3 separate regions of the Homo sapiens genome follow, and regions 2 and 3 are each linked to region 1. Evidence: fine-mapped expression QTL. A gene starts in region 1. Each other region holds a variant in brackets. All regions are shown on one strand. Distances are between the middles of the regions. Region 1 holds the start of VASH1 (vasohibin 1). Region 2 overlaps LOC105370577 (a long non-coding RNA gene). Region 3 holds the start of LOC105370577 (a long non-coding RNA gene).

What was found.
Region 2: its variant is fine-mapped to the expression of VASH1 in whole blood (INTERVAL, PIP above 0.99).
Region 3: its variant is fine-mapped to the expression of VASH1 in whole blood (INTERVAL, PIP above 0.99).

What each region holds. Positions count from the first base shown.
Region 1 is chr14:76,757,691-76,764,528 of GRCh38, reverse strand. It overlaps VASH1 (vasohibin 1), which reads right to left and starts at 3,061. Exons shown (of 7, transcript NM_014909.5): 1 at 1,399-3,061. The coding sequence starts at 1,707. RefSeq lists silencers at 2,535-2,804, 2,905-3,094.
Region 2 is chr14:76,712,559-76,719,396 of GRCh38, reverse strand. All of the region lies in intron 1 of LOC105370577 (a long non-coding RNA gene), which reads left to right. Among named protein-coding and RNA genes, the nearest start is that of VASH1, 45 kb to the left of the region's middle. The variant G/A (reference allele first, on the strand shown) is at 3,438.
Region 3 is chr14:76,721,859-76,728,696 of GRCh38, reverse strand. LOC105370577 (a long non-coding RNA gene) reads left to right here and starts at 1,986. Exons shown (of 2, transcript XR_007064273.1): 1 at 1,986-2,178. The variant G/A (reference allele first, on the strand shown) is at 3,842.

The DNA of each region.
Region 1 (6,838 bases):
GACCCCTACCAATGTCAATATCCTTTGACGCAATACTTTCGCTTTCAGAATTTTTCCCAAGGAAATAATCAGAGATGAACCCCAAAATTTATATTTTAGAATGTTCACCATAGTATTCATTTTAGGAATAAAACTGGAAACAACATCCAACTCTAGGGGATTAGCTAAATAAATATTAAGTCAGTGCAGAGCACATTTATGCGGCCATTCCAAATCAATCTACATTTTGTTTCCCCTGGAAACATTAGGCAGTATTTAAACCTTCAACCTTTGATTCTCTTTTTCCCAGAAGACACTTTCTGATGGCTGTACCAATAACTTGGTAAAAACAAAACGGGCCACTTGTCCTCATGTCTAATTCACACTAACTTCCATTCTTCCTAGCCCCCTTCCTTCCAACCTGGGCAGGCAGGGCTAAGCACTGGGCTCTGAACTCAGTCCAAAGGGCTCTTTTTTGGAGATTTCAGGCCTCTGCATTTGGCAAAGTGCCTCCTAGTCTTGATCATGTTTTTTTTTTTTTTAATATCTGGCATGTATTTCCATATAGCAGCGTACAGCACAGAAACTCTCAAATACCCTTTCATTCAGCAAACACACACACTAGTGCCTGTTCTGTGCCAGGCACACAGGAGGCCTTGGGAAGACAAAGATGAATGAGATACAGCCTCTGTTTTCGTTGGTGACACAACTGAAGTATAGCTGTCATGGAGGAGGAGTTACAGCCAACACAGAAAAATTATTTCATTTTATGCTTCTCCATAAGACCTCTTCTAATGTGCTTGAATCTACTGTCCAACAGAGAAGAGGACCTGGACACTTCCCTCCACCACCACCCCCCGCCCTTCTCCTGAAGACCTGAAATTGAATCTCAGTTCTGCCACTTACTGGCTGTGGGATCTTGAGTTCCTACTTGAGTTTTCAGCTTTCTCATCTGTAAAATGGGAATCCAAACTGTACTTACGTCACAAGGCTGTTGGGAGAATTCAATGACATAATGCACGAAAATATTTTCTCAACATATGAAGCCCTGCATCTCCTTAGTCATTCATTACATTTGTCTGCTCACAGTTCTCTGGCTTGGCAAGTGTCATCAAGCAAATGAGACGTCAAGCCATCCTACTGTGTTTGTTAGTTCCATCTGCTGCTGTCCCCTCCTGTAAAACGTGGACATTTTAAAAGACAGCGGGGAGGGCCTCCTGGAGACAATGTATGTGAGCCTCCCTCCTAGAATGGCAGTGAGAGAAAGTTCTCCTAGACAGGTATGATATCACTGCATTTTAAAGATCTTACCGAGCCAGTGGTCCCCTGCCCCGTGGGAGGAGAGTGTGGCTTCACTCTTGGCCCCAAGGTCACTAAAACCTAGACTGTGCTATCACCCCCCTGACCCGTGTGTCTCACCTTGGGCAGGTCTGTGGCCCCACGGATCCGTTGCGCCACCTTCTCTCCATCGGGGTGGATCTTGGCCACGTGTTTCCACATCCTTTCCCAGGTGGCCTCATCCACAGGTAGCCCACCCCGGTTGACAAAGAAGGGGACGCCTCCGTCTCGCAGGTCCTCTTCCCCTTCCTCTTCTGGCTCCTCATCTCTCTGGGCTGAGGTTCCTTCGCTGGTCTCCAAACGCCTGACCCCAGAGGGGGCGGTGGCCGCAGCGGACGTTGGAGTGGCACCGCTGCTGCCACCCCCAGCCACCTTCTTCCCCCCTGGCATCCCTAAATCTTCGAGGGGGGTGGTGGAGGCGGGAAAACAACTGGCTCACAAGAGGCCTCCCACACACCGGCTGCAGAGATAACACATGGCCAGAGTGCAAGGCGCCTTTAAGAAATCAGGGCGTGGCTCCTGTACAATAAAATACGACTTGATAAAAAAAATCAGTGCAATAAGGTGAATTAGGGTCCGAGGGGGTGGGTTGTCTGGGGTCAGCCTTGGAGGCCTTGTTCTGTTTGAAAAACGGAATAAAGAGAACACACCCCAACTTGGCAGCCGTCACAAAGCACCCCCATCTAACTGCGAGAACAATGACGGGCAGCAGTGAGGGCTGGCAGAGCGGAGAAAAGTCGGAGGGAAACTGAGGCCAGACAGCTCGGACCAGCGGCTGCAGAAAGGACAGAGTCAAGGCACGGGTGCCCACTGGGCGCCCTGGGTCTCAGTTTCGGAGGGAACAAAATCCCCTACACAACTCTCGCACGCTCACATCTGCGCGCGCCCCAAGGAAGACCGAGGCGACTCCCGGCCGCGCGAGCTCGGAACCAAGACCCCCGGGCGGGAGAGCGGCGCTGGGGGGCGATTTCTCCGACGCGACGAGACAAGTCCGGGAGCCAAGACTCGCAGCTGGCCGGGAGCGGGGAGGGGGCGCGCGCCGACGCGCACATTCCCCGCCTGCGGCCAACTCCCTGCACAAAGTGGGCTTTGTCTGGGTCCCCTGTCCCCTCGTCCCCAGAAACAGCGGCGGAGTCCCCAGAAAGGGAGCGGGCGCGGCGGGGAGGCGAAGGCTGCGAGCCCCGAGGCCCAGCGGGTCCCCACTCGGGCGCGTCTCAGCGGGAGGACGGCTGGCACCTGGCGCCGCGCTGCACCAGCCGAGCCATCGCAGGGCACGGGGCCCGCGGCTCAGCGGGACCGGCTCGGGCGGCGCGCAGGGGCCAGGCTGAGGTCACTGAGCGGCGGGCTGCGGCCGCGGGGTCGCTGCCTGGGACTGGCTGCAGCATGGGCGGTGGCGCGGCCCGGGCGGGCGGAGGATGCTCCGTGGCTGTTCGCTCGGGCTGCAGCTGCCCTGGCTGAGGGTGGAGGAAGGACCGCGGGGCGGGGACCGCAAGCCCGGAGGCTCGCGCAGCCTCGGCCGGCGGATGTAGCTGGAGGCGAGTGACGAAGCCGGGCGAGCGCGCGCTGCGCTGGTGCCTGGGGAGCAGCCCGCCAACGCGGAGCCCGCCAACGAGAAGCCCACCAGCCGATCGCTGCTCGGCGAAGCTGGGGCCGCCGCTGCTGCAGCCCCGCCGCCCCTGGGCCCCGCTGCCGCCGACCACGTCCCCTGCCAGCCAGCCGCCCACCAGGCTCGACTACGGCCCGCGCCGCGCATGCGCTCCGTCCCCCCCTTAAAGGGCCAGCGCCTTCGCGCCCAGTCCTCCGCCCCCCGCGGCGGTGCCTCTGTCCCAAGTTACCCCAAGGACGCCGGTGGGCATTCGCTCCCTCCTCACCCAGCTGTCAGGGCGCCGCGAAGCCGGTGCGAAGCTGCGGAGGACGTTTTCAACGTGCCAGAGGGAGCGCAAACTCCATGGAGATTCCTAGCGCAGAAGGAATTCCTGCGGTCGGGAATTTCTTGAAAAAGATTCTTCGCAGGGGCCCTGAGCCGGTAGGACCGAGAGCACTGGCCTGGAAGACTGGGATTCTAGACCGGATTCAGTGCCTGTGTTGCTTTGGGACGTTCAGCAGTTCCCTTCCCTCTGTAGGCCTCAGTTTCCCCATATCCCAGCCGAGGTGGTCACAGTGAGTGAGCGCAGAGTCCCTCCCAGCGCGCACAGTTCTTAGAGGAGGACATCTAGGGATTGAGACGGGGGGTCACTATCTCTGGAAACGAAAAGGGTTAAAAGTCACCCTGTTTTATTCGATTGCCTGCACTGGTGGGAATGGGGTGCGCAGAGCTCACCCCTAGACCATCTGCCTAGACCGGGCTTTGGACGCTCTGGACCCCGCGGACCAGGGTGGGACCGCGACGTGGGCGTGGGAGGCAATGCTTGGGGAGGGTCCGCTGGCCTAGAGGAAGGTGAAAGTACAACCAGCTGTGGTGCGTGGTTGGACACTGGACGCACCCTCCGCCTCCCTCATGCCATAGAGTTGTAAATGGTGGGAAAGGCACTATCTCTAGGCTGAAGCCAAGAACTTTAGGAAGAGACGGCCGAGTGTGTGCTTTAAGATGCTCCCCCTCTCCCCTGCCTGTAGTTAGCATGAATCACAGTCTTGTGGGAGAATGCAGATTCCTTGGCCTTAGCCGGCAGATTCAGATTCCTTAGTTGTGGGGTCGTTGCATTTCTTGACAAGCTGAGGTTACTACACAAGGGCTGGGTTAAAGGCCTTAGAGAGACCCCAGGGCCTCAGTGGTTTCACATCTGTTCTCTAAAGCTGTCCCTAGTATCTGAACTTTCTGGGTACCCTGTGCTCCCGTAGCAACCTCTTACTACCTCCAGGGTCAGAAACCAAGGGTTATCAGTGATGGGAAGGATTGCAAGACTCCAAGAAAGTTAGTTCAGCCTGGATCTTCTTAAACTCACTAAGGCAAGAAGACTCCAAGCGTAGAAAAATCACTAGGGATCAACAACTATCACCCTGTATTGTATAAACCAAGTCTCAGAGGGTAATTTCCCCAAACTCACACAGCTAGTAAGTGGCAGAGCTAGAATGTGAACAGAAGTCTTACTTCTTCAGACACTTGTTTTTCACTCTATACATTGCTTCTTGTGTTAGCCAAGTGGTGCTGGTTTTAAAATTGGCTTGCAAGCTCTTGACCATTCTTTTCAAAAGATGGGATCTAATTCCTTTCCCCCTGAATGTGGGATGTACTTGGTGACTGGTGTCTAATGAATAAAGTGTGATGAAAGTGAAGCTGTATGACTCTTAAGACCAGGCCATAAAAAGGAGACAGCTTCTTCTTGGTTCCTCAGAAGAAACCAGCTACCATGTTGTGAAGAAGCCCAAGCCACATGGTGAGGCCACATGAGGGTGTTCTCGCTGACAGCTGCTGCTGGGCTCTCAGCCAACAGCCAGAGTCAATCACCAGATCATGGCAAACCGAGACTTCAGGTCTTGCCAGCCCTCGGCCTTTAAGTCTTAGAGTTGAGGTCCCAGACATGGAGCAGAGAACAACCAGCCCTGCTGTGCCCTGTCTGACTTTCTGTCCCACAGAAATTGAGAGAGGATAAGTGACTATTCTCGTTTTAAGCTGCTAAGTTTTGGACTAACTTGTTACGCAGCATGAGATAATACCATGTGTTTTCTGAAATGACAAATAAAATAGATGTAGGGTATTCATTCAAAGAGTAAGTACTCATAGAACATCTTCTATGTGTTTGACTCTGTACTGGGCACTGGAGAAGCAGTAGTGAACAAGAGGGACATGGCCTTTGCTCTAGTTGGACTTATGGCCTACTAGTGGAGGAGATAGTTAAGCATGATTTCCATAAGGTGCTCTGCCAGAGGGTTATTCAGGAAGCTGTGGGAGTGCATACCCAGAGCAACTTCCCAATCAGGTGAGGAGCTGGGAAAAGAAGAAATGAGTTGGGTACAAGGTCAGCATGGACTAGGCTAGAGAATTTTCTGGCATGTGTGCATAGAAGTGGAAGAGGGTATGTGTCAGGCAAGGGGGCTTGCAAATAGATTAGAAAATGGTGAAACTGGAAAGAGATGTGTATAACCCAGTCTTATCTAAGCCAAAAGCCCAGAGAGAACAAGTGACTTAACCTGGTATGGCACAACTTTTGAATTGGTCTCAGATCCTGGGTCCTTCATCAAGCCCTCCCATGACTCCCCACACCTATGCCTTGGGAACAACTCCTCCAACAGACACTTGGGTAACTCCTTATTTGGCTCAAAGCTTTCGTGACCGTTATTTTTCTTTTTTTTCTTTTTTTTTTTTTTCCCCTGAGACAGAGTCTCGGTCTGTCACCCAGGCTGGAGTGCAGTGGCTCGATCTCTGCTCACTGCAGCCTCTGCCTCCCAGGTTCAAGTGATTCTCTGCCTCAGTTTCCTGAGTAGCTGGAATTATAGGTGCCTGCCACCATGTCTGTCTAATTTTTGTATTTTTAGTAGAGATGGGGTTTCACCATGTTGGCCAGGCTGGTCTCCAACTCCTGACCTCAAGTGATCTGTCTGCTTCGGCCTCCCAAATTGCTGGGCTTACAGGCGTGAGCCACCGCGCCCGGCCCTCATGACAATTATTCCTTTTGCTGTCTTCACAAAAACCGTGGAAGAGTTAGGATGAGTATGATTTCCATTTTACAGATGAAGAAAGGATGCATAAGAGAAGCTAGGCAAATTACATACCTAGTACAGGAGCAGGCACATCTGAGCTGCTGGGTACAAGTCACTTTCATGATGACAAGGATGACGATAATGACGCCTAACTCATATCATGTGTCACATTTGTTATCGTCACACTCTGGACTAATGGTCTGCAAATGAACGCATGTTGTCTTAGGGCATCAACACTCATATTAATCTGCTCTGACACATTTTCTATTCTTGTGACACAGAAGCTAGAGTGAAATTTCCAGAGAGAAGAGTCTGTTGACTTAGCTTGGATCCTTGGCTAGAGGAGGATGGGGCAATTTCATTAGCCAAGACTACAGGTGGTTGGGGGAGAAGGACTGCCCTAAAGGTAAATGGGGTGCTGTTAGTAAAAGAGGGGCATGGAGGCACACAGGTATAGATGTGTTTATAAAAGGTAGATGTTCTGACTCAACTTTTTGCTGTTTTCATGTTCATAATTTATGAGGTAAAAGAAGAAAAGAAAAGGAGTTTAATCCCAAGAAAGAATCACAGAGCAGAACTGTCCAATAGAAATTTCTGCAATGGGCCAGGCGCAGTGGCTCATGCCTGTAATCCCAGCACTTTGGGAGGCTGAGGGGGGTGAATCACGAGGTCAGGAGTTCAAGACCAGCCTGGCCAATATGGCAAAATCCTGTCTGTACTAAAAACTACAAAAAAATAGCTGGGCGCAGTGGCAAGCACCTGTAATCCCAGCTACTGGGGAGGCTGAGGCAGGAGAATTGCTTGAACTCAAGTGGCAGGGGTTGCAGTGAGCCGAGATTGCATCACTGCACCACAGCCTAGGTGATAGGGTGAGACTCCATCT
Region 2 (6,838 bases), 45 kb after region 1:
AAACGGGGCAAGAATCTCGAAAACGTGGCCCCACTTCTGAGTGCTCGTCACCTGGCACAATACCTGGTACACAGCAAACAATTGTTAAACCAAAAAAAAAAAAAAAAAAGCTGGGCACAGTGGCTCATGCCTGTAATCCCAGCACTTTGGGAGGCCGAGACGGGTGGATCACCTGAGGTCAGGAGTTCGAGACCAGCTTGACCAACATAGAGAAACCCTGTCTCTACTAAAAATACAAAATTAGCTGGGTGTGGTGGCACATGCTTATAATCTCAGCTACTCAGGAGGCTGAGGCAAGAGAATCACTTGAACCCAGGAGGTGGAGGTTGCAGTGAGCGGAGATCATGCCATTGCACTCCAGCCTGGGCAACAAGAGTGAAACTCCATCTCAAAAAAAAAAAAAAAAAAAAAAAAAAAGAAAAGAAAAGAGAAACATGGCAGCAAGAGAATGAATAAATGCAGGCCACCTGGCTCAGAGCCGCAGGACTTGAATTCAGATCCCAGCCCCCTGGCTGACCTCCCTGTGTAAGTTCTACTGACCTAATCCATAAAGGAGGGGAGGGATGAGTTCATCGCTGGGATTCCTTCCAGCCCCCAAACTCAATATTTTGTATCCACATAGGAAAAAGAAAGAATATTTATGCAGTCGTCCCACTGAACTGGAGCAGGGAAGAAACCTGCCTGGATGATTCAGGCTCACATACACAATCATCTCCAAATATGCTTCCCTTCTGTCAAATGCCATCTCCTAAATATCACCAGAGCAACCTGCGGAGAAGGCAAGGCTGAGTTGATTGTTCACCGTGGTAAGGTAGAGTACCCCCTCCACAAAGCCTCAGTAGCTTCCCAAAGTGGGAGGGCAAAGTGATTTTTATTGAGACTTTGAGGCCTGGTTTAAGGTGGCTCTTTCAGTGCAGAGGTGGCATGCTTGATGGGGGTTGCTAAGATCATGATTGGTAGACACAGCAAAGTGAGGATTTCTGGCTGAGGCGTTCAAAGAACCTTGGGGTATAAACTGTCTTCCTATTGAACCTATAAACTGATGCTTCCTGTTGAAGACATGGTGTGTCCTTCAGGAAGTTCCTGGGATGAACAGTAGAGTTATTTACAGCTTTTATCTTCCTGGGCAAGCATTTTCTGGAATAATAGTGAAGTTACTTTGATGAGGACAGTGGAATAGTAAAGTCATGTTAATATAGACAGTGAGCTATGAGTGGTTTGATTCTCATCCCAAGCTGTCTTGGTTCGCTGTTTGAATGACTGTGATGTCCCCTCCACCAAGAAGGCTGACGCCTATGAACATGTGTACTCCCTTTCCCTCTTGGTCCAGCTGGATTTGGCCCATGAAGGCAGGGAGCAGAGTGAGGCTGGAATATTCATTTCTGTTCTCTTTCTGCTGGTATTACCCAGCAAGCAATGGGCTCACTGCCTGATGCACACACAAGCCAATACCATGGCACTGAAAACCTTTATTGGGAATTGACTGGCAAGACAGGAGGCAAGGCTGAAATCTATGTCGCCTAGCTGGTGGGCTGGGGCAGGTTTTATAGGCGAAGGGTAATGAACCATGATCTGATTGGATCTTGCAATGAGGTGATGCTGGGGAGGCATGATCTGACTGGATCCTGCCACGGGGTGACACTAGAGCTCAATCTGATTGGATCCTGGATCCTGCCATGTGCAGTCCACCTCTGAAAGCAGTCCTTGCTCCCGGCTTCCAGCACTTAGGTTCCACTTGTGGTTGCACACTTGGTTCATCTGGGCATGTTCAGGTTACTTGACTTTCAACTTGGGGATCCATGGCAACCAAAAAACAACTCACGACTTTGTTACATAAAAGTTGAACCAGGGCTGGGCACGGTGGCTCACGCCTGTAATCCCAGCTCTTTGGGAGGCCGAGGTGAGCAGATCACGAAGTCAGGAGATCGAGACCATCCTGGCTAACACGGTGAAACCCCGTCTCTATTAAAAGTAAAAAAAATTAGCCAGGTGTGGTGGCAGGTGCCTGTAGTCCCAGCTACTCAGGAGGCTGAGGCAGGAGAATGGTGTGAACCTGGGAGGCGGTGCTTGCAGTGAGCCAAGATTGCGCCACTGCACTCTAGCCTGGGCAACAGAGCGAGACTCTGTCTCAAAAAAAAAAAGAGTTGAACCAGATTGGTCTGGTGTGATTACACTGGGTTGCCCTGGGTTGGTTGCCTCCGCCTGTTTCAGCCCTCAGCTCCTATCACCAGCCTTCTCAATAGCTTCTCTCTTGAGTTGGGGTAACTGCTCCCCGACTTGCCCTTTTATGCCTAAGGGAGCCTAGCTCCTAGTATCCCATGTGGCTCTTTCTCTCATTTCTTATTCCCAATGAGCATGTGTTGCTTTCCTAAAGGCATTTCCATAACATTATACTTTTAAAGTCAACTGTGTGTGAGTATAAATGCTATTGGACATCAGGGGAGAACTCGGAAAAAAAAAATGTTCATTTTTATTGATAAACTTTTTAACTAAGGCAATTTTCAAAGAAAGCTAAAATCATGACATTCCTACAAACATAAAATGGACATGTTAAAATTGTATTTAGTGCATCATTAATGAAGGCTGGTAAGATGTGACAACCGGTTCAAATGAGAAGTCAAAAGAGGCACAAATTTATATGGAGAAAAGCAATGTTGAAGTGTATTTACGAATAGAAGGAAATATATTTACGAATAGAAGGAAACATATTTCAAATAGAAGGAAACTGGCTTTCCTTTGGAAAATAGGAAGTAAATTGAACCACCTCGGGACAGAATGTATTTGCATGCCTGCAAACAGGAATTATTTACATTGCTATCAGTTATCTACAATTTACAGATTTGAAAAATAGCTCAAAGGCAATGAATGGCCCAGAGACCCTAAAGCATCGCACTCAGATAACCTGGAAGGGTATGCTCTAAAGGATACACAGTTTCCCAATGAAGCACACATTTTTTCCTACGTGACATTTATTAAGCAGTTAATACTTGCAGGCAGTGATCCAATCCATGGGGACTGATAGTCTGCTTGGAGATTTAAGACACAAAAGAGCTGAGCCGTCTCCCTCCAGCAGTCTGATTAGTGGAGTGTTTATTATACTTCCTCTCAGTGACATAAAGATACTCCAAATTGAGTTCCATCATCAAGCTTTCCTCTTGAGAAAAACAAAAGTTTCCACTGCTTTCAAAAGTTTGAAAGCCACCAACCCATGTCCAGCAGGTTCATTTTATAGAAGAGAAAATGAAGGCTCAGAGAGGAAATGTGGTCTGCCCTGGGGCGCGCAGCTTGTTAACTCATGTCTGGTCGGAAGATGGGCTTTCAGGGCCGAGAAGGTGCTCCTTTTTGGCATTATTAGGTGACAGAAAGAGCTCCTGGAAGGGAGGATTTAGGAAGCAGGCTGTGACAGATGGTTTTCATCTCCTGTGCTCTGGGAAATC[G/A]CTACCACCCTCTAATTGGATGTTGGGAGCTTCAAGCAAACTGGCAATCTACATTGTATCATTGTTCCGTATCCCTAATTATCCCTTGGGATTTGGCTTAAGTGCAGCTTAGAGGATGTTCATTAATAGTGTCGACAGGGACACTCAGCATTTGTAAAATTCTTTACAATAATTGAAGACCTAGCATTGTTCTGGTGTGGTAAGGAAGCATGTTTGCTCCCAGCCGAAAGATGACTTAAGCTAAGAGGGTGGAGACTGGCTGACTTGGGAGTTGTTTTTCTAACGTCCAGGTCTGAACTCACAGTTCTACAATCCTTGTTTTCACCGGCTCAAGGAAGCTCCTTGATGAATTACATGAGTTCAGCTTACTAATGGGCTTACTTCACCAGAGTCAGAGTGATCTGTCCTTGGCATTTCATAACCCACTTCAGTTTCCTATCTCTTGGCCACCGTATTGTCAAAAACCTCATATTCCTGTGGCCATGACCAGTTCCAAAAGAAGCTTTGTCTCCACAGACAGATCGTGGTTCCATCTGGGCCTACCACCAAAAGCCTTGTGATTCCAGATGGAAAAATCCCCACACCCCCCCCCGTTTCCAAAGCAGCCCCCCATCTCGATTGTTTTATCTACAGTCAGCAGCACGAATCCTCCACAATCAGAGTCTCTCCGGGGGTGGAAAGAGTGGCTAATGGGGGATACAGCTCATCTTCAAACCCTGTGCCATGTGAATGGAAAAAAAAAATGCACACATCTGGCTGGGTTAGATAAAGAGGAGGGCTGGGGCAAAGAAGCCGGGAGTGGTGGTGGGGGCTTCCCTCTATCAAAGAAAACATTAAGAAAAAGGCTGCTTTTATTGCAGAGGAAAATTAAAACTTTACATTGTGACTGGAGCTGTTCAACCATCTACATTTGGCTGGGCACGATGGCTCACGCCTGTAATCCCAGCACTTTGGGAGGTCGAGGCGGACGGATCACCTGAGGTCAGGAGTTTGAGACCAACCTGGCCAACATGGTGCAACCCCATCTCTACTAAAAGTCCAAAAATTAGCTGGTCATGGTGGCAGGCGCCTGTAATCCCAGCTACTCAGGAGGCTGAGGCAGGAGAATCGCTTGAACCCGGGAAGTGGAGGTTGCAGTAGCCAAGATCGTGCCATTGCACTCCAGCCTGGGCAACAAGAGCGAGACTGTCTCAAAAAAAAAAAAAAAAAAATCTACATTTTTGTTGTTGTTGTTTTCAAAAGATATCCTTGAGGAACCCCAAGTATTTGGCTGGAATCCTTTGGTGACAGCCAGTTTCCTTCCAGGAGGTTGGAACAGAGCTGCATGTGTGTACATGTGTTTGGGGGGATACAAGGAATTGAGTGGTTTTCTTTCAATCATAGCCTCACCCTCCTGCCATTTGAGGAAGACGGAGGGAGAAGGACAGGATGGGAGGAGATAATTTCTGAAAAAAATTTTTTTTTTTTTTTGAGTTTCACTCTTGTTGCCCAGGCTGGAGTGCAATGGCGTGATCTTGGCTCACTGGAACCTCTGCCTCCCGGGTTCAAGCGATTCTCCTGCCTCAGCCTCCCAAGTAGCTGGAATTACAGGTGTGCACCACCACGCCTGGCTAATTTTTGTATTATTAGTAGAGACGGAGTTTCACCATGTTGGCCAGGCTGGTCTTGAACTTCTGACCTCAGGTGATCCACCCACCTCAGCCTCCCAAAGTGCTGGGATTACAGGCGTGAGCCACCATGCCTGGCCTGATGATTTCTGAATTTGAGGAATGAAATTTCAGCTGCCAAAGAGCACCTGGAGATGTGTTTCCTCCTCCCACACCCTCTTTCTCTCCCCACAGCCCCTACTTACCCCAGTCCCCAGAACCGCCTCCCCTGGAGGCATCTGGGACATCATTCTCACTACTCATTTCCTCCTTCCTCAGCTACAGGGGAGGCCAGCTTTCTGGTCTTCTGTTGCCCATATTGGACTTTATTTGGTGCTCCAAAGGGAGGTAGAAATTGCAAAGGACTCCCCTGCCCTTGCATATTCTGTAGATTCCCATCGCATGCTTCAAATAAGCCGTGTCCATTCTTCCCCCAGAGCCTTGCCTCTGTACCACCCCAGCTTCCCCCACTTCCTTTTTGCTGAGAACTTTCTCTGTATTCATGAAAGTTCTCCCTAATAGCCTGAATAAAATAATCTCCTTAATTATCCGGGGCATTTCTTTCACCCTGTACTGCCCACACCAGGAGTCTGAAATAGAACCATAAGCACCTTCAGCGTTAAGACAGGGAATTACCTTAAGTGGTTTCAGGAAAGATGTGAGCAGGAGCTACTTAATGGGGTGAAGGTGAGGCTGCCTTGAAGATGAACCCTCCTTTTGGGCAGTGTTTCACTTCAAAACCTCAGAAGCGGTGACCCTAAGGAGATTTTTATTAACACACCTACGAAGCAAACATAAACCCCCCTCTGTGTGCGTGTGTGCACGGATGTGTGCTGGGGGGCAGTGCAGGAGAGGAGGGGGTGCTGGAGAATCTCCAGGTGAAGGGGGATGCAGTTTTGTTCCCATTACAAAGACCCCTTGTCAGCCCGCTGGCCAGGCTGAAAGCGCCGGCCACTTCCCATTCAATGCCAGCTCTCCTAAGTGGGCCGGGTGGCTGTGGCCTCGGTTAGGGCGGTTGTATATTTGCACAGATCTGCCATTTGTCATGTTCCCAGAGGTCTTCAGGACAATGACTTTTGTGGGGGTATGCTGGAGGAAGGTAGCTTTTCAAAATTGGGAACCTTTTCGGCTTGCTAAACGGAAAAGGACAATGGCCTCTTTGTCCCTAGTGTAAGACAGCTGTGGGGAGCCCTAGGAACCCACCAATGGTAACTTTAAAATGCTGCCTTAAAGGTATTGAACAAGTCTGGGTGTGATGGCTCATGCCTGTAATCCCAGCACTTTGGGAGCCCGAGGCGGGAGGATCACTTTAGCCCAGGAGTTCAAGATCAGCCTGGGCAACATGGTGAGACCCCATCTCTACAAAAAATATAAAAAGTAGCCAGGTGTGGTGGTGCACACCGTAATCCCAGCTACTCAGGAGGCTGAGGTGGGAGGATCACTTGAGACTAGGAGGTTGAAGCTGCAGTGAGCTGGTGATTGCACCAGTGTACTCCAGCCTGGGTGACAGAGAGACACCCTGTCTCAAAAAAAAAAAAAAAAAGAGAAAATAAAATTAAAAAAAAAAGATAACAAAATAATAATAGCCACTAGTTTAAAGAAAAACACTACCCATAATTGTGACATTGAAATACAGTATAGTAACTGATTAATGTTTCCATTTTTATATATTAGGTTCCAATCTCACATTTTACAATTGGGGTAGTGCCAATTTATGTCTTTTCACTTAACATTATGCCATATAATCATTTTCTT
Region 3 (6,838 bases), 36 kb after region 1:
GTTTAATTTTTCTTTTCTATTTCTCTCTCCTCTGGGATTGGTATTTTCCAACATTAAGCAGATTAATGTGCATGTGTTGCAGATTTCATGTGGCTTAGAGTTGTGTGGTATAGGGGAGGCAGAATTTTACCCCTACCTTTTTAAGGTTTTTCAGCTGGGCCTGAGAATTAAAGTGACATAAGACAGATCCACAGGATAAAAGAATACTAGTATATTTAGTACAAGTTTTCCATGGCATGGGGGCCTTCATAAAGAATTGAAGACCCAAAGACACAGCTAGAGTCGAACACTTACATACTGAATTAGACAGAATAGTAGAATTGTGAAAAAGTAACTAAATTCAGTGGGGAGGCTAAAAAAGGTAAGTTATTTTAACAAGGTCTGTACAGAATTCTCTCCACTAAAGCTTCCATTCTTGATAATAAGACTGTTACTTTCCTTGTAGTATAGGGAAAGTATACTTTCCCTATACTGTGGGAAAGAAAGCATCTTTCACATGGCAGTTTCATCTCCTGCTTTTAAGAAACAGAAGGAATGTCAGAATGATCTTCTTGCACCTGCTGTTTTTCAAATGCCTTTAACTCAAAATAGTCAATATGCCAGGGCAGCATATTTTGGGGAAGGCATGTTCTTATCTCCTTCAGTGGGAATGAGACAGTTGGAAACATTGTATGATTTGGAGAGGAAGCCCTGCATTTTCAGAGGCCTTTGTTTTGGGTGTGCCTTAACTGCACCTGCATTTCTTGCCGTTTCTTACAAAGAAACTTCCTTTTGAGAATCAAAATATTTCAGCTGAAGTTATTTTCAACCACAGGGAAATGTTTGAAATGTCAGCCTTTGTTAGCCCAAAGAATATTGTTTCATGAACAGTGATCGAAATAGTCATTTCCTTTGGGAAGCCTCTGCCATTGAAACAAACTTTGATTTTGGAAGCAAAATTTTGGCTTTAAAGATGTCATCCAAGTGTTACAACTTTTTCTAATAGCTCCCTGGCCATGTATTGTAGAGCTATGATAGGTTGTTTGGGTTTGAACAAGAAAACATGTTCTGGCTAGGTTGGGCAGTGTTAAGAGGAGGGACAGTATAGTGGTGGGGAGCAAATCCCTTACAGCCGGGCTGCCTGGATTTGCAATCCTCGTCATGCCACTGCAAGCTGACTCTTCGGCAAGTTATGTAACTGTTCTGGTCTCAGTTCCTGCATCTATAAAATAGGGGTGATGGTAGTATTTACTGCCTATGATTGTTATAATTATTAATTAGTGTATTAAAAAGCACTTAGAGGCTAGCACAGAGGCTAGGCGTTATAATTATTAATTAGTGTATTAAAAAGCACTTAGAGGCTAGCACAGAGGCTAGGCATGGTGGCTCATGCCTGTAATCCCAAAACTTTGGGAGGTGAAGGCAGGAGAATTGCTTGAGGTCAGGAATTTGAGACCAGCCTGGGCAACATGGTGAGACTAAGTCTCTACAAAAAATACAAAACTTAGCCAGATATGGTGCTGCACACCTGTAATCCCAGCTACTCAGGAGGCTAAGGTGGGAGGATCGTTTGAACCCGGGAGGATAAGGCTGCAGTGAGTCGTAATTGTGCCGCTGCACGCCAGCCTGGATAACAGAGTAAGACCGTGTCTCAAAACAAAACAACAACAACAACAAAACAACAAAAAAACAAAAAAAAGCACTTAGAGATGGCTAAATGCTAATCCAATAAGGGCTGTAGTTTAGTTAATAGTATTGCATTCATGTACATTTCCTGGTTAGATACAGGAGTGCTGGGAAGGGAAGGGTGTAGTTCTTTTAAATGATAGGGAAGGGAGAAGGGAAGTGCTGGGTAGAGGAGGGCGTGGTCTCTGGCTAGGGCTCCACCCCCACCGACCTAGGTGAGGACAGGAATTTACTGCCCAAATGTTGCATTTTCCAAGACCACCCTGGCCTGCCATGCCCCCATCCTGTGCCTATAAAAACCCGAGACCCTAGCAAGGCAGAAACAGCAGCAGCTGGAAGTCAAGAGGAGTGCTCTGTGGAGGAACACACCCACAGGCACCAGCATGCCGGCAGGCCACTGACTGGCAAAACAACGCGGTGTTTGGCTGGGGCAGTCGGAGGAGCGCTCGGGCCGCCAAGCAGACCGACTCCAGGGAAAACCATCTCCCTTCTGGCTCCCCCATCTGCTAAGAGGTACTTCCACTCAGTAAAACCTTCCGCTCATTCTCCAAGCCCACATATGATCCGATTCTTTGGTGCACCAAGGCAAGAACCTGGGGATATAGAAAGCCCTCTGTCCTTGCAATAAGGCAGGGGTCTAATTGAGCTGACTAAAACAAGCCACCTATAGCCGGCCAAACTAAAAGCAAAACTAAAAGAGCACACTGGGCTAGGTGCGGTGGCTCACGCCTGTAATCCCAGCACTTTGGGAGGCCTCATGAGGTCAGGAGTTTCAGACCAGCCTGGCCAAGATGGTGAAACCCCGTCTCTACTAAAAATACAAAAATTAGCCGGGCGCGGTGGCGGGCGCCTGTAATCCCAGCTACTCGGGAGGCTGAGGCAGAAAATTGCTTAAACCCGGGAGGCGGAGGTTGCAGTGAGCCAAGATCACACCGCTGCACTCCAGCCTGGGCAACAAAGCGAGACTCGGTCTCAAAACACACACATACACACACACACACACACACACACACACACAGTAACACGCCCACTAGGGCTTCAGCTGTAAACATTCACCCCTAGACACTGCCATGGGGTCGGAGGCCCATAGCGTGCCTGTCTGTATGCTCCCCTACAGGTTTGAGCAGCAGGGCACTGAAAAAGCAAGCCACATCCCCATCGCACGCCCTGCAAGGGGGACAAGGGAACTTTTCCCATTTCAGTTGTGATGATTGTACTATGAATATGCAGGATGTTACCATTGGAGGAAGCTGGATTAAGGGTACACGGGAACTATATAGTATATCTATGTGCACTTCTACATGAGTCTAAAATTATTTTAAAAATACAAAGTTAAAAAGTACTTAGGGAAACTATATTTGGTAGTATGATTCTTTGAGTAAGGTTTGTCTTTGACAGGAGACTGTGGACTGTAAACTCTCTGAAGTTAAGGACTATTACTGTTTTCCCCAGCACCTAGTACAGTGCATGGCACATAGTTGGTCTTCAATAACTATTTGCTGACTGAAAATGAATAAAGAAGATACTAAGGGTACCGGCCAGCAGAACTTTAAGCAACAAAAGAGAGACAAACCAGTTCCTGCATTAAGGTGGGAGGAAAGAGGTGAGAGGGCCATGCACCAATATTTGGTAAGACCTTCAAAACACATGCACACACACATGCATGCCCGCAAACACATGTACACACACAACATGCACCTGCCCCTGTGCAAATTAGGGAGTGGTTTGAGTGCCACGGATGGGTCAATGGTATGTGTGCCAACAGCAACAACAGCAGGATGGCAAGGTGATTCCTAAAGTGATGTGATTCTGCAGATGCAGCTCAGAGCCAGTGGTGAGCACAAGAATTTGGGATGAATCCATGTTATCTGGATTTTGGGTGGCTTGGTGAACCCAGCTGACAGTTTTAGTAAATAAACCTAGACGATCTTTTTCTGTACTCAAATGTTAAATGTAAGGACAATTGTTTAAACATCGTTCTAGTCTAAGGAAAGCTAGAATGCTACCTAGTTTGCTAGAATATACCCAGAAACAGGGGAAGAGGGTTGATATGGTTTGGCTGTGTCCCCCGCCAAATCTCATCTTAAATTGTAGTTCCCATAATCCCCACGTGTCATGAGAGGGACTTGGTGGGAGATAATTGAATCATGGGGGAACTTATCCTCATGCTGTTCTC[G/A]TGATAGTGAGTTCTTACAAGAGCTGATTTATAAGGGGCTTTCCCCCTTTTTGCTTGGCACTTCTTCCTGCCACCATTTGAAGAAAGATGTGTTTGCTTCCCCTTCCATTGTCATTGTAAGTTTCCTGAGGACTCCCCAGCCATCTGAACTGTGAGTCAATTAAACCTCTTTCCTATATAAATTACCCAGTCTGGGGTATGTCTTTATTAGTAGCGAGAGAACGGACTAACACAGGGTCAAATTCAAGAATTAAGCTATGCTGCTGGTAATATCAGGGTCACACCACATATGTGATAAGCCTATCAGAACATCACAGGGTTTAAACTGATACTACCATTTATGATTTGGAAAGGTTCTAGAAATTAAGAGATGCTTTGCTGCATTTGTAACTCTAAGAAATACAAAAGGTTTGGGTGTGAATTAGGTTTCTCTATTATATACAGGGTGTTAAATCAGACTTTGCAAACAATCCTAGGCAAAACTTACAAGGTCTGAAAGCATTTCCCAGAAGCTATTCACAATGCCTGACTTAAATACTCTGTATATAAAATTATAATGTAAAACTGTTGTTCCAATTTTTTTTCATAAAAGCCAAATACTTAAAACTCGATGTTTTATTTCAATATCTATCATATCATTGGGCAGGTTAGGATATGTAACAAATATTCTAAGCTCCTAAGAATGGATGGAACTATGTCACCTGTCTGTGTCTTAGCTGCCCAGGTAGAAACTTGGTTCTTTAAAGCTGTAGGGGAAGAAAATCTTTACCTCAACCATCTTAGGGTTACTGGTTGGGACTGATAATTAAGATGACATAGGCAGATGAACAGGAGAAAAGCACACAGGTTTTGACATGTACATGGGATCCCCCAAAGGAAAATGAAGATCTAAAGAACTGGCAAAACCTAAGTGCTTATATACTAGGTTGAACAAAGAGAGGCAATTGTGGAAGAGTAACTAAAATATACATGAGGACTAAAAGAACGTAAGAATTATTTTAACAAGGTCTGTATGTACAGATTTCTCTTGGTCTCAACTTCCTATCTCTGATGATAAGAATGTTTCTTTCCTCCTGGTATAGGGAGGGGACCTTTCACATGGGAGATTTATCTCCTGTTTTTAGGAAGAAAAGGGGAGGTCAGAGCACCCCTTTTGCAAGTGCCTTTAGTTCAAAATAATCAAGGCAAGTGGCATATTTTGGGGATGGCATATTCTGCCACCCTTCAAAGCCATGGACTGTGTGTATGACTGTGGATCTATTTTTCATGTTCTCCATCCCCTTCCTATATACCATGTTGTTTTGCAAATAGTTGATGCACAGTGAATTTTGGTAGATTTTTAAAAGCTCTTCACTGTACTCTATTAGCACAGATAGTCTTACTATTCAGTTGCATTTCTAAATGCTGTTAGTGCAACTATTACAAATGCAATATGTGTTCATTGCAACAAGTGGAAAAAGTACAGAAAAGTGTAAGGAAAATAAAAATCCATCATGATTCCACTGTATACCAATAATCACTGCTGACAGTTTCACATATACCAGACTCAGATGTTTTTGTGCATGAGTGGATTTATATAGTACACAGTTGATAACCTGTTTTTTTTTCTGAGTATTGTCTATAGAATTCCCATCATTAAGTATATATCAACATCACCATCTTTACTGACTTCATAGTATTCCATTTATGTATGTGCTGTAATTTCAATCCCTATTGCTAAATATTTAGGGTATGTCCACATTTTCTCTACTATATGCTGCAATTCAGCAAATATCTCTGAACATACATTCTTGGGAAAAGTTCTCAAGAGTGAAATTGCTGTTACTTTCAGTTTAAAATTTGATTATACTCCAAGTTGTTTGATTTTTAAGGATGTTGAACACCTGTACATATGTCTAGTTTCCCTACTTTGAATATAAGCTTCTAGAATAGAAGGAAGAAATCAAATCTTGGAAGTCTCTGTATCCTCTACAAGTCCTAGCACAGCTCTGGGTGTTGGAAATGCTTTTGACTGCAAATCATGGAACACCTGTGCAAGAGTAGCTTAAATCAAAAAGCCACTTAATCATCGCCCATAATTAAGAAGCCTGGGTGTAGACAGTTCAGGGGTTCGTGCAGCAGCTCAGCGAGGTCCTTCCACCCTTTTGGCTTTAGCACACTTCCTGCCCTGCCTGAGCGCCAGCACATTGTCTTCACTCGGCACGCCCAACCCAATCTAGAAACAAGGAGGTGGGCAAAGGAGCTCTCCTCTTGCCCCTCTTTTTTTTTTTTTTTTTTTTTTTTTGAGACAGAGTCTTGCCCTGTCGCCCAGGCTGAAGTGCAGTGGTGTGATCTCAGCTCACTGCAACCTCTGCCTCCCAGGTTCAAGCGATTCTCCTGCCTCAACCTCCTGAGTAGCTGGGATTACAGGCACGCGCCACCACGCCTGGGTAATTTTTTGTATTTTTAGTACAGACGGGATTTTGCCATGTTGCCCAGGCTGGTCTTGAACTCCTGAGCTCAGGCAATCCGCCCACCTTGGCCTCCCAAAGTACTAGGATTACAGGCGTGAGCCACTGTGCCTGGACTTGCCCCTCTGTTTTTATCAGAGAGGAAAAGATTTTCTAAAAACAACCCAGGAGAATTTTTTTTGTATCTTATTGACTAGGCTACTTCTAGCGCAGAAGAGGCTGGGAAGGTATCTTTGGCCTTTCATCCCCTATGATGAAAGGCAAGCTCATGGGAAGGAGTCAGGGAAAGACTGTTGCGTTGGCCACCAACAAAAATGGGGCCCAGTGATAGGACTGAACATATTCCCAGAGTTGGCATGTAGATCATCTCCTGCCCCCACTCCTCTTCATCTCTCAGGGAAGAAAACGAGTTTTTATGGTGTCACCAGCCATGGGATCTCTGGGGACCCAGTGTCACCAATTCTGCCTCCCTCCTTAGCGTTTTGGTGGGGCTTTCCTGTTCTTGTGGGTGTCCTCCAGGGGAGACTGGTCCTACAGGGGGCCCAGG